Linked DNA regions of Homo sapiens. The protein of the gene in region 1 interacts with the protein of each later gene in a biochemical or structural test. Each region holds a gene or a part of one and is shown on either strand. Other genes may lie near its edges.

Region 1 (7,029 bases):
GCATGGTGGGAGGAGGAGACTCAAAAGGAACATAGCCCCAGTGAGTTCCGGAGGGCAAAGTGGGACCTCCAGTGACGACGACAGCCTGGGAGACCCAAGTTCAAGACAAAATCAGGATCTGCTCAGAGAGGAGACTGGCAGAGAGCCAGAATCAACAGGAGGGAACATGAGGCCATGCAGCCGATGGGCAGCGCAGCTGGGCCGGGGTGACCCAGGGCTGGACAGGCTGGAGACTCTCACTTTCACAAAATGCTGGCTGGCTTTCCAGAAAAGACCCTGCCCGGAGAGCTGCCCCCACACCCTTCTCCCGGGGCCTCCTCCACCCTCAGGCTTCCTCCCTTCATCTGTCCTTTCCCCCAGGGAGCTTCACCGCGCCCTAAGTGGCCGCCCCATCACCTCCACCCACGCAGTCCAGGGAGCGGATGGCGGGCACGGAATTCAATAGGCGCCACCAGCAGTCACCTGGAAAGCTGGGGAAAGTCGATACCCTAATCCCAGTGACCGTCTCTGGGGAACAGGCCCAGGGCCGCTCCCTGCTCCTCCTTCCTCCCTTCAGGGAAGGCTGTGGGAGCCTGGGGGCCAACGCCCCATTGGGCCCAGCCCCTCCCTGGCTGATGCCATGGTGATGGGCCCTACAGAAACAGCCCAGCCCGCTTCCTTCGAGCCAGCTAGCTCAGGACCCCAGAGGAAAGGGGCTGGAGGAGTAGGAAGACCACTTGGGTGTCCAGGGGAACAACAGAGGTAACCCCACCTCTCAAGACTGCCCCTCCCCCAGCCCAGGGCTCTTGTTTATGCAAAGAAGACCAGTGCCCCATGCCCAATACAGGAAAATCAGCCCCAACAAGAGGATGGAAGGGGGCAGGACGGCGGGGGCAGGAAGGAACCCTGGCTGTTCTCAGGGGCTGGGGTGTGTGTGTCAGGAGTATGTTGGGTGTAAGAGCCATATTTGCTCTGGGAGACAGCTCAGTTTGTTCCCCAGATTCTGGAGACAGGGCTGGGCCTGGTGCCAGCTCTTCAAGGAAGCCAGGATGGAGACAGCTGGCCCTGCCTGGAGTGCTGTGTGACGGGCAGCCTGGGGGCACTGGGAAGTGACCAGGGGCTCCAGGCACTCAGCCAGTGTCCACACCTCTAGGCAGAAGGTGTCTTCTCCTTACCCTAGGTGAGGTACAGGGGGCTTGGCTGTCACTGGCCCCCTGCGTAGTGGCCCTGATGTCACCTCATTTTACTCTATGGGACCCCCTTCCACCCTCCACATCCCTCCAGGTCTGTGCGGGCGGCAGGGGAATGTTGGATGTGTCCATTTTAAAAAAAGTCACTCACTGCTCCTAGCCCTTGATCTCTTCCTTCCTATTTCTCAGTGGGAAGAGCTTTCCCTGGAGTCTGGTAGGGTGGGAACCAGGAGGGAGACACAAACTAAAGTGAGGTCTGCTGGTCTGACAGACACCCCCAGGACTCAGAGGTCTGAAACAGGTTCTCCTTCTGGCTAGTAACCTCTTCTCCCTGTGCCAGCCATGGAGACCCACGGGGGCAAGAGGGGGCAGAGTCTGGCTCAGGTCTCTGCAGGGCTGGGCAAGCCTGGGATGGAGCAGGCTGGTACCTGGGCTGCAGCCCGGCTGGACACCATCCAGGGCTGGCCGCCCCATGCCTTCCCTGCTGCATCCTTCCTCATCCCTCACCCTCCTCCCAGAAGTCTCTAGATTTAACCCCCAGGGGTTGTCCCAAGGGGCTATTAAGAACCTTCAAGGAGCTTGTGAAATTGGGGCTCAACACTGAAGTAACAAATAGCAGCTGCTATTTACTGAACACCTACTATGTGTTAGGCACCGAGCTCTTTACATGTGTTTTCTTCTTAAGAGCCAATTATAGTCCTAAAAGGAAAGTATTATTGCCAGCATTTCACAGAAAAGGAAACCCAGCTTCAAAAAGCTGGAGTCAGTTGCTCAAGTACACATGGCTGACGGGCAAAGGCAGGATTTGAGCTCAGATCCAGAGCAGCACTGTCCAGTAGATATATAATGCCAGCCATGTGTGGAATGTAAGATTTTCTAGTCATCACATTTGAAAAAGGAAAAATAGGCCGGGTGCAGTGGCTCACACTTGTAATCCCAGCATTTTGGGAGGCCAAGGCAGGTGGATCACCTGAGGTCGGGAGTTCAAGACCAGCATGGCCAACATGGTGAAACCCTGTCTCAACTAAAAATATGAAAATTAGACATATGTGGTGGTGCACACCTGTGGTCCCAGCTACTCCAGAGGCTGAGGCACGAGAACCGCTTGAACCCAGGAGGCGGAGGTTGCAGTGAGCCGAGATCACGCCACTGCACTCCAGCCTGGGTGATAGAGCAAGGCTCCGTCTCAAAAAAAAAAAAAAAAAAAAAAAGAAAGAAAGAAAGAAAAGAAAAATAGGCCAGGTGTGGTGGCTCATGCCTGTAATCCCAGCATTTTGGGAGGACGAGGCAAGTGGATCACTTGAGCACAGGAGTTTGAGACCAGCCTGGTCAACATGGTGAAACCCTATCTCTACTAAAAAAGAAAAATACAAAAATCAGCTGGGCGTGGTGGTGCACAGCTACTTGGGAGGCTGAGGCAGGAGAATCGCTTGAACCTGGGAGGTGGAGCTTGCAGTGAGCCGAGATCGCACCACTGCACTCCAGCCTGGGCAACAGAGCGAGACTCTGCCTCCAAAAAAAAAAAAAACAGGAAAAATAGTAGAATTGAATATTTTATTTAACATAATGTACCCAAAATATTATCATTTCAATGTGTAATCCATTTTTAACAATTGAGCTATTGTACATCCTTTTATTTGTACAATGGCTTCAAAATCTGGTGTGCATTTTGCACACACAGCACGTCTGCATGTGGACCAGCACATCTCGAGTGCCCGGGAGCCTCGCGAAGCTGGTGGCTGCTGCCCGGACAGCACAGACCTGTGCTGCCTGAGACTGCCCCAAACACACTCCTCTAAATACCCCTGGCCATTGCTGTTCCCCTGACCTTAGCACAGGGAGAGGCTGCAGCCTGTCTCGGAGAATTCAGAGCTCTCAGCACCCAGCAGTGAGTGGGACTTGAACCTGGCCAGCATTCTCTGTGTGTTCCCACACCACCCCGAGGTGACCTGGACCTCAGGGAATCTGTAACTCTTGTCCTTTTCTAGGGCCTAGGGACCTAAACATTGCCTAGGAGTCTGGGGACATGGTGAGTTGTCCTACCATGAGGGGAAGGCTTCGGTCAACAGTGAAGACCACCCTTGAGGGGGGCTCTCTGTGCAGGTTCTGGGGAGTGAGGGCGGGGGTAGATACTTGGTTACCAGATTCCAGATTGACCTATCACATCACGTGAGAAGGGATGGGGACAGGAGCCTGCCACTTATGGGCTGAGGCACTGCAAGGATGCCCTGCTAGGGACAGGAGCACCTGGAAGCCCTGGATCCTTACAGGAAGCCAGTTCAAGCAGCCTGAATTTATACCACTGTGATGGTCCAGCTGTGGCTCAGAATATGATGGGCAGAAACACCTGGCAGAGTCAGGCTTCAAGCACAGCCTACTCATGTGGCCAAATGGCTGTGCAGGCACTAGAGTCAGAGGGTTGGGTTCCAAGACACACCCCTGCGCTGTGTGGGAGGAGTCGCTAGCTCAGAGTCCTGGGACCCGCCATGGCCACCTTAACTGATCAAGCCTCAGCCTCCATAGGCAGAGAATGGGGCCAATATCTGCCTCACTGGTGGTCATGTGGATTAAATGAGACAGGCAAGGTTAGTACTTAGCACAGTGCTAGACACAAATAGTAGCTATCATGTATTGAACACTTACTGTCAACCTACAAAATAGAGAAAACAATAGCTAATTTGTCTGGGGGACAATGAAATGCATATTGGCTGGGTGTGGTGGCTCATGCCTATAATCCCAGCACTTTGGGAGACCGAGGCAGGTGGATTACCTGAGGTCAGGAGTTTGAAACCAGCCTGGCCAATGTGGTGAAACCCCATCTCTACTAAAAATACAAAAATTAGCAGGGTGTTGTGACAGGTGCCACCCAGCCTGGCCACCGTGGTGAAACTCCGTCTCTACTAAAAATACAAAAATTAGCAGGGTGTGGTGGCGGGTGTTTGTAATCCTAGCTACATGGAAGGCTGAGGCAGGACAATTGCTTGAACTTGAGAGACGGAGGTTGCAGTGAGCCGAGATCACACCACTGCACTCCAGCCTGGGCAACAGAGCAAGACTGTCTCAGGAAAAAAAAAAAAAAAAAAAAGAAAGAAAGAAAGAAAGAAAGAAAGAAATGCATGTCAACATCTTTATGTCATAGGTAGAGTGCCTAAAGGCACTGTACAAACCTGTTTCCTTCCAGGTAGGGCCACTCTATCTTAGAGCAACGAAAACAGAGGAACATTTGTTATTGGGGTCTAGAGCTCTGGTTTCTCCCTGTAAAGAGTCCTGCAGCACCAACAAGACCTCGGCTGAGCTTCTTCTTTCTTTTTTTTTTATTTTGGAGATGAGTCTCACTCTGCTGCTCGGGCTGGAGTGCAGTGGCGCGATCTCGGCTCACTGAAACCTCCACCTCCCAGGTTCAAGCCATTCTCCTGCCTCAGACTCCCGAGTAGCTGGGATTACAGGCACCTGCCACCACGCCTCGCTAATTTTTGTATTTTTAGTAGAGATGGGTTTTTACCATGTTGGCCAGGCTGGTCTTGAACTCCTGACCTCAACTCCTGACCTCAACTGATCCACCCGCCTCGGCCTCCCAAAGTGCTGGGATTACAGGCGTGAGCCACCGTGCCTGGCCTGAGTTTCTTATTAATTTCCCACCCCACTTTCCCAGGGACCATTGAGATGGGACATCTGGGAAAGGGGAGAAGGACCCCATCTAGACATATGGAGTTCCTTGAGAAGGAAGCCCCCATTCACCCCCCTCCCCCTGTTTTTTTGGTAGAGACGAGGTCTCACTATGTTGCCCAGGCTGGTCTCAAACTCCTGGGCTTAAGCGATCCTCCCGCCTCAGCCTCCCGAAGTGATGGGATTACAGGCACAAGTCACTGCGCCCGGCCAGGAAGCCCCCATCTATCTCCAAGAGAATCATCTCCAGAATTACTGAGTTAACAGGAGCTTGAAGGTAAGAACCAGGGGCTACACTGTTTTGCCAGCAAAGAAAGAGATCCCAACACACAAACAATCACATACCCTGTCCATTTCAAATCCAAACACCCAGCAGCTCAAGCTCTGTTCTGCCCTACCAGAGCTCCAACTTGGTTGGTGTAAAATGGCCCGCCCGCCCTGGGAAAGAGGTTGATGGCCCTCCAGCTAACTGTGCCCCACCACCCACCTTGCTCCCTGGGGTGCCTGCACTCTGACTCTGGGATCAGGGTCAGGGCTGGCAGGAAACACCCCAAACTAGCACTTTCATTTACAAACCTGTCATGCCACCAAATCTTCCCAATAACCCTGCAGGCAGTGCCTTTCACAGAGGTGGAGGCTGAGGGTTGCAGGGAAAAATGAACTCCCAGGATCCCAGAACCAGCACACGGCAGAGCTGGGATTCAAACACTGATCTGGCTGACCCCAAAGCCTGGACTTTTGGCTTTCTAGTTTTCAAATAGAAGCTGCTAGCAGGCAAGAAAGAAGAGTGGGTAGGTTCTATCTGGAATTCCAATCTCTGGGCGGGGCGGGATGAGCTGAATGAGGACAAAGGTCCCTGACTGTTGTTATATATTCATTCATTAATTCAAAAACTGTTTTTGAGAGCCTCCCTACCATGTGCCAAGGACAGCGCTGGGGATAGAAACACAAATAGGCCACAGTTGATGCCCTTGGGCTTACCACGTAGTGGAGAAAAAGGTCACAAACAGATGATTAAAATATTGTGTGTTTAGAGCGATAAAAGATGTAAGGACAAAGAGGAGGCGGAGGCCGAGGCTGGCAGATCACCTCAGCCCAGGAGTTCAAGACCAGCCTGGGCAACACGGTGAAACTCCATCTCTACAAAGAATTTAAAAATTAGCTGGGAATAGTGGTGCATGCCTGTAGTCCCAGCTACTAGGGAGAATGAGGTGGGAGGATCGATTGAGCCCTGGAGGTCGAGGCTGCAGCGAGGCGAGGTTGCGACACCACTCCAGCCTGGGTGGAATCTGTCTCAAAAAAAACAAAAACAAAAACAAAAACAAAAAAAGTGAAGGAAAGGAAATGCTAACTCTGCCTACTGGATTAAGGACAGGCTCCCTGGGAGGGGACAGAAGTGTCAGGGTGTGAAGGCTTAGAGGCTAGAGGGGAATTCGGACCCTGGGTGTGGTTTTGGGGGTAGGGAGGCAGTGGTGAGAACAGGCTGCCAGATGGAGAAGGGCCATGGAACAGCATATAACTCTTAAAAAAAAAAAAGAAAAAATTTAATAGAGACAGGGTCTTGTCATGTTGCCTAGGCTGGTCTCAAACTCCTGGGCTCAGGCGATCCTCCCACTTTGGCCTCCCAAAGTGCTGGGATTACAGGTGTGAGCCACCACACCTGGCCACAACGTATCATTCTTAACCCACAGTGACCATCGATCAGGCACTGACTGTGTGCCAGGCTTGGCCACAGTGGCATTTGCCCAACTAGGCAGGCTGACCCAGCGCTAGCTGCCCCATGATAGGTGTGCAATGATCACTATGAAATATGTATTCATTCCAATACCAACTGCAAAGGCTGGCTGAGCCTGGACTCAGTGCCAGGCACTGAGCTACGTGCTTTACACACAGCCTCATGCAATTCCGAGGTAGCTGCCATAACCCCCAACTTACACAAGAGGAAATGGAGGCTTACAGAGGTGAGGTAACTTGGCTTCGCACAGCCTGGCTAGTACAGCTGAGCTGGCTCGGCTCTGCCCGGCCGGCACTCTGAACCCAGACTCAAGGGTTTAGGCCTCATCCTGTGACTGGTGGTGAATGGGGGGAGGAGGGCTTTAAGCAGGGGAACAGCAGGGCGGGTCTTGCTGCTCCTCTCTCCCCACGGGGCAGGCGGGGAAGGCCATCCACAAAGCAAAGCCGGTGGGCAGAGCTG
Region 2 (7,029 bases), on another chromosome or scaffold:
AATGTACCAGAGCTCACTTAAAAGCATAGATATTCCTTGCCACACAAACCCTGACTATCCAAATCCAGGAGACTGAAGGATTCTTGCAGATATTCAGATTAGGCCCTCACATGCCAAATTATCAGGAGTCAATTTCTGAAACTCAGGAACCAAATAGATTAGGATCATATGCTATCCCTTCCTTTCCAAACTCTGGTTACTGAGACTCACTGCTTGACCCCAGTTACTGTGTTGAGCTCATGTTTTGACCCCCTGCTCTTTTATGTTTCCATCTTGAGTGATGCAGTTGAGAGTTCCATATCTTTTTGTATATGATTTTGGAACAAGTTTCTGTATTGACACTTGAATTTGGGTGTGCTAGGTAAGTGCTGAACATCCTGATGGCATCCTTCCAGCAAGCCACGCCACAATGTCCAAATGATATTTCCTTATCTCTAGTAGAACCTTGAAAGTGGGATGGCTGGGTCCAAGGATTAGTGCATATAGCTGGGTGTGGTGGCTCATGCCTGCAATCCCAGCGCTTTGGAAGTCCGAGGTGAGAGGATCACCTGAGGTCAGGAGTTCCAGATCAGCCTGGCCAACATGGTGAAAACCTGTCTTCACTAAAAAATACAAAAAATTAGCCAGGCGTGGTAGCAGGCATCTGTAATCCCTGCTACTCAGGAGGCTGAGGCAGGATAATTGCTTGAACCTAGGAGGCAGAGGTTGCAGTGAGCCAAGATCGCGCCACTACACTCCAGCCTGGGAAACATGAGCAAAATTCTGAGTCAAAAAAAAATTAAATAAATAAAAAATAAGTGGATGTATAGTTTGGCTAGCTATTTCCACACCCTTCTCCACAGGAGATGGATCATTTTGGACTTCTGCCTGTTTCCCCACAGCTTTGTCAACAGAGTGCATTGTCATCTTTGGGAACAGTTTTGTATACTGTTTTGTCTCTTACCACCTTTTTTCCTCTGCAGACAGAGAATGTCCCAGTTACACTATCAGAGGAGAACCGTTCTGAAGGAAAAGTTGGTTTTCAGGCCTATAAGAATTACTTCAGAGCTGGTGCTCACTGGATTGTCTTCATTTTCCTTATTCTCCTAAACACTGCAGCTCAGGTAAATAATGACATTTGTTTTGCGCCCTCAAAATGATATTTACAGTACCTATGTTTATGCTATTATGACTGCATCTTGCAGTTCACTTGGGGTCTGAATTGAAATGTGCTGTCTTTGGGGAACAAAGTGAGGGCTGCCTACTGGTGTTCCATGTCCGTTACAAAGACCTGCGAAAAAAGGGTATCTTTCAATGATTTTAAAATGGAATATGCATTTTCTTGAACCCTTGATATCTGGGAGTTTGGGCTTGGCACAGACCTGAGCTGGAAGAACTATGCGAGTTCTCTGAGCCTTTTATTCTTTCTTTCTTTCTTTCTTTCTTTTTTTTTTTTTTTTTGAGATGGAGTTTTGCTCTGTTGCCCAGGTTGGAGTGCAGTGGCGCGATCTTGGCTCACTTCAACCTCTGCCTCTGGGGTTTAAGCAATTCTCCTGTCTCAGCCTCCGGAGTAGCTGGGACTACAGGCACATGTGCCACCATGCCCAGCTAGGCTAATTTTTGTATTTTTAGTAGAGATAGGGTTTCACTATGTTGGCCAGGCTGGTCTCGAACTCCTGGCCTTAAGTTGATCCGCCTGCCTCAGCCTCCCAAAGTGCTGGGGTTTACAAGCATGAGCCACCACGCCCGGCTTTGAGGGCTTTCTTTCGGTTGTCCATGTTAGCGATTGAGAGTTTTGAGTTGGTAAGTCATGCCCAAGTTTGATTTTTGTCTTTGTTGTTTCTCCCCTCCTAGGTTGCCTATGTGCTTCAAGATTGGTGGCTTTCATACTGGTAAGTTATTTCTGGTCTGATGTATGAAATACTCCAAAATCAGTAAGAAGACTCGCTTTTCCATAGAGTTAGAGGGAGGTGTTTGTTGATCCTTCTCTTCTAATCCTCACTTCGTTTACCCGAAGAAAAATTAGAGTGCTTGCTGGTGGAGTGTAAACTGCGGTGGTCTCCACCCATGTCTGATCCGCGGCATCATGTTCACAGACAGTTTCGGGAACTGAAAGTTGTGATTTAAATTGAATTTTTATAAGGTAGATATACACAAGACTAAGTGAGCTGAGAATCATTTTCCAGCATGAAGCGTTTCTCCCAAATTGTGGTTCATTTTTAAAAAAATGTATTTATCTAAATTTCATATATAGCTTAATATTTTTTTCTCCCCATGTTCCATAGGGCAAACAAACAAAGTATGCTAAATGTCACTGTAAATGGAGGAGGAAATGTAACCGAGAAGCTAGATCTTAACTGGTACTTAGGAATTTATTCAGGTAAAGTTTAATCATTTGGTGTATTGTATGAGAGGCTGAGGTGCTTACAATGAGCCTGTGTGAGTAACTAGGGCTTCCAGGAGTCATTCAGTAATGTCTTAACAGATCAGGAGTCTCAGTCGAATTTACTCTGTGAATTAATTAGAATAATTATTTTAAAAATCTACTAGAAGAGAGGTTGACTGAAGACTCTTAATTTGCTCTGTACTGGATTTTGAAAGTTAAACCAGGATTGAGCATTCAGAAAATCAGCCACTGGAAATATGTGGCTATTGTCTATTCTAATAGGTTGCTTTAGCTAAATCTTATATCATTATACGGATGGGCAGGGGGATTAGAAACGGATCTCCACCCTGTGGTTCGGATGGTTCCAATTCTGTCTAAATAAACCCTGGCTTTTATTGAACTTGGATGAAATCCTCTGGCAGCAAGGCCCCCAAAATAAAAGCATTATTCCCTCCCAGGTATGCAAAGCTCCCTTCAGCACTGCTCATCTCCTGGGCTTCACTAATTACTTAAGAGGGAAGCTGAGCAGGGAAAAATCCAGTGTCTGGGAATTAGGATGCCTTCTATTTCTTACCTTGAGATCACAATGTTATCGCGTCCCCAACTGTGTGATTAATTTAACATTTGGCTTGCCAGACTAATATTAACGCCACACTCTGTTTTCACAAGAGTGCTTAGAATGTATGTAGCATTACATACTGTTTAAAGAAAATCTTCATCTAAAATTTTAAATATTTCCACAGGAAATGCTCCTACAAGCTTTCCTCAGAGATAGAGTGAGTTATCTTTGTAAGAACCTACTCAGTGAAATTTGGTGTTTATTTCATCGATCGCTTGCTAAGAAATCTAAATCTGTTAGGTGTTTACCTTCCAACTGATGGACTATGTGGAAACTAAAGGAAGAAGGAAATCTATTATGTTCTATTATGTTCGTGTAGGATGGCAGGCTAAGGATAATGCCCGTTGATGGAGTTAGGAATTTGAGCTGCTTTCAGAGGTTAAATAACAGTGACATGTCATCTGAAAGGGAAATATTTGTTATAGAAGTTACCCCCACTGTATTTAGCATTGTGAATGAAGAGATGTTAGGAAAGCTCTTTTAATTTCTATGTGAATAATGGATCCTCATTCATGTCTTAATAAAATGTATGATTTATTTTATTCATTTAAAAATGTCTTGTGTCTATGTAAAACAGTGGGGGATTAGTTGCTTATTTAGATTAATTATCTTATGTTAAAATATAATTTGTGTTTTCTTGCAATTCAATTATTCAAGAGGTTTTCCACATGCAACTTAATACGGTATTTTTAAATTCTTTAAAGCTACTTGGGCATTTTCTACAAGGAAAAGGTAAATCATTTCTCCTATTCCTTGTTAATATCACATGTTGGTATCAAAACATACCACCTTTTTTAGATTATGGGACATAATGTAAGTAATAAGATTTGGAATATGGAGAAGATCAACTACACTTCATGATTATCTATCCTACTTCTGAGTTTTTAATAGAACTTGCAATTGAATTAGAGCCTAGAATGAAATTGTATTATACACCTGATTTTTCTTTTCTGTGCAGTTTCCATTCAGTGAGAGAAAAATAAACTATTTTAATCCTTCTTTGTCAATGTATTTTGTAAATACATTATACTTATGTAGAATCCAGATGCTTTATGGAATAAATTAAGTAACATCTTTATAAACTACCTGGCTTGCTTTAGCAACTATTGAAGAAAATGCAGAGATATGCTGTGTTCTCTAAGTGATATTTCTTTATTTCAGGTTTAACTGTAGCTACCGTTCTTTTTGGCATAGCAAGATCTCTATTGGTATTCTACGTCCTTGTTAACTCTTCACAAACTTTGCACAACAAAATGTTTGAGTCAATTCTGAAAGCTCCGGTATTATTCTTTGATAGAAATCCAATAGGTAAGTCTGACACCAAGTTTCTCAGTAAGTATGTCTTGTTAACAACACATTTAGGATCTGATTACATTTCCATCTTTGAAAATGGAAGGGATGCTGGGAAGAAAATCACTATGCATGTTGATTCATTTTCCACAAGAAACTTCACTGATATTTTTCTCCTACCAGAGAAAATCTAAATATGCGGGGGGAGGGGGGGGCATACAATCTTTTATTCCAATTTATATGTGTGTGGAAAAATAAATGAATGTTCACTTTGCAGAATGCTTTAGGAATCCATTTGCTGTGAGGCAAGTGAAGCATCCTGCATTCCCTGTAAACATGTTTAAATGTAGTTGAATAGTTGCTAAACATTGGCTGTGTTTACATAGTGTTAGGTTATGCCATTTTTCAGAGGGATCTTTGTAATCAGGAATGCTCTGACGTGAGACAGGCCGTGCATTTCTTTCTTTCATTGGGAAACCCGTTCATTTCTGGAAACACAGGGTTTTTGTACATACCCTGACTGTGAGGTTTCCCTGAAAGATAATATGTGGTTAATTAAAAGCCAAGATTGATAAAATGTAAACTCCCCTTCAAGAACAGTTTCTAACTCTGTGGTTTTGAAGTAGACTTTTGGTTCTATAATAGAGACTTTGTTGAACCTGCCATATAGATCTTCAGTAGCTTGTTTCCTAGGTATACCCAACTATACCCAGTATTTTCCAAGTGGTTGATGCCTCTGCACTATGCGCTTCTTATCTGTCCTGCTTCTGAGGCTAGCCTTCCTGACCTGGGTTCCTAGGGAGAATTAGTTGTGCCTATAAGTCCCCACCCTGCTCAGTTGAGTGGACTTGTGGGGAGGCCTGAGTGACATTGTGCAAATGATAACTGCCCTCATAGAAGCAGGGAGGTGGCCTGGAGAGAACACAGGCACAGCTTTGGCCTGGCCATTGACTAGCTTTTTGACCAAGGCCAGAGCACATAGGTGCTATTACACAGGCAAGTCTCCAAGCAGATGCTGTAGTTCAAAGTGTGAACTCAAGCTAACTACCTGGGTTCAATCCTGGTGCTGGTTACTAATTGTTATAGCTGATTATAGTTACATTCATATTCATGTCCTAGTTACTTAATTTTTCTGTGTCACAGTTTTCTTATCTGTAAAATAGGGATACTATTCATACCCACCAAATTGAAATCTTATGAGAATTAAGCATGTTAATACATTCCTAGCACATGAAACTGGGTGTAGCAACATGGTCAGTGCCTAACGAATGTTAGTGACAATGAAGCCATGTATCTGTGAACTGAATCACCTTCACTGTGGGGTGGAAATTACTCCTACCCTCTCTGTTTTACATGATTTTTGTGAAGATTAAAGAAGACTGTTCTGGAAAGCATCTTGTGTAGATTTATTTAACAAATACTTTTCAGTCCAAGCACTGTGCAACGTGCAAGGATTTGTAAACTGCAGAGACCACACAAATATCGGTCTGATTTCAGCTGTTATTAGAAAGTCATTGGAGGACCTCTGCGCTATTACAGCTGTAACGTTGCGCCACTTTGCCAGTTAATTTGAAACTACAGTCATAACATTTGGAGCATTAAGTGGGACTGCCTTTCTGTTATCACAGGCCTCGGAATGCTCATGACTACCATTAACCAGCCTCTCCATGTTTGAGACCTGTGGGCTTCTCCTCATGCTGATTTATTTATTATTCAGGGATTTGGGACCCAGTCTAAATCTTGGAGGTGACTAATCTTACAGCAGCACCTGAGTGTTTATCTTGCTTCCTCCTCCTATATCTATTAGCATGACTTTATTCCTTCAACAAAATAGAAGCCCAAATAAGTACCCCAAGAGAGGTCTACTTTGTCCAAAATGTTTAGAGGTCATGAATTATTTACTTTTTTTAGTGGTAGATGTTGAAAAAATGTAAAAATTAAAAGTTTTTTAATGGTAGAATTAAAATTTTCATTTAGATAAAATTTTTGCACTTTTTACAATGGTGAAGGATACACAAAATCTGTGAATTACGCCTCAGAATTCACATTACTGATTGTATGCACTTCAATAGTTATATATATATATATATATATATATATATATATATATATAAAATTTATTTAGAAATAAGGTCTCATTCTGTTGACTAGACTGGAGTGCAGTGATGTGATCACAGCTCACTGTAGCCTTGACCTCCTGGGCTCAAGCGATCCTCCTGCCTCAGCCTTCCAAGTAGTTGGGACCACAGGCCTGTGTCACCATGGCCAGCTAATTTTTAAAATTTATTTTATTCTATTTTGAAGAGATGGGATCTCACTATGTTACCCGGGCTGGTCTCGAACTCCTGTGCTCAAGGGATCTTCCTGCCTCAGTCTCCTCAAGTGCTGGGATTACAGGCATGAGCCACTGGACCCAGCCGGCTTTATAATATAAATAAAAATTCCCCTCTATGATAGTGAGGCAGGCATGCTCGATTTTTCAGTACTCTTAAACATACATGTTAAATATGTATAAGTATCTGGCATGATGTTGTGCCCCCTGAATTGCAGAGTGTTCTTTGAGTGGGGTAGAAAGACTGGGAAGCATGTCTGAATACTTAGTTATTAAAAGCAAGCTCTTAGAAGAGCCCCGGGGGAGTTTCCTATGAGCTCAGCATCCTGATATTCTCCCAGGTTTTAGAAAACTTAGGAAACGGGGAGGACCTCTGCTGGCATGTAGTTTCCAGTAAGCTCACCTTGGGATGGTGACTGGCAC

The links.
Region 2: the proteins of NHERF1 (region 1) and ABCC4 form a complex in vitro, tested with the Homo sapiens proteins (3 studies listed by BioGRID and IntAct, with this or other methods).

Annotation. Positions count from the first base shown.
Region 1 is NC_000017.11:74,751,625-74,758,653, reverse strand, and holds part of NHERF1 (Na(+)/H(+) exchange regulatory cofactor NHE-RF1), read right to left. Parts: intron 1-7,029. UniProt on the Homo sapiens protein: Scaffold protein that connects plasma membrane proteins with members of the ezrin/moesin/radixin family and thereby helps to link them to the actin cytoskeleton and to regulate their surface expression. Necessary for recycling of internalized ADRB2.
Region 2 is NC_000013.11:95,158,452-95,165,480, reverse strand, and holds part of ABCC4 (ATP-binding cassette sub-family C member 4), read left to right. Parts: intron 1-962; coding exon 963-1,103; intron 1,104-1,833; coding exon 1,834-1,871; intron 1,872-2,264; coding exon 2,265-2,359; intron 2,360-4,145; coding exon 4,146-4,292; intron 4,293-7,029. UniProt on the Homo sapiens protein: ATP-dependent transporter of the ATP-binding cassette (ABC) family that actively extrudes physiological compounds and xenobiotics from cells.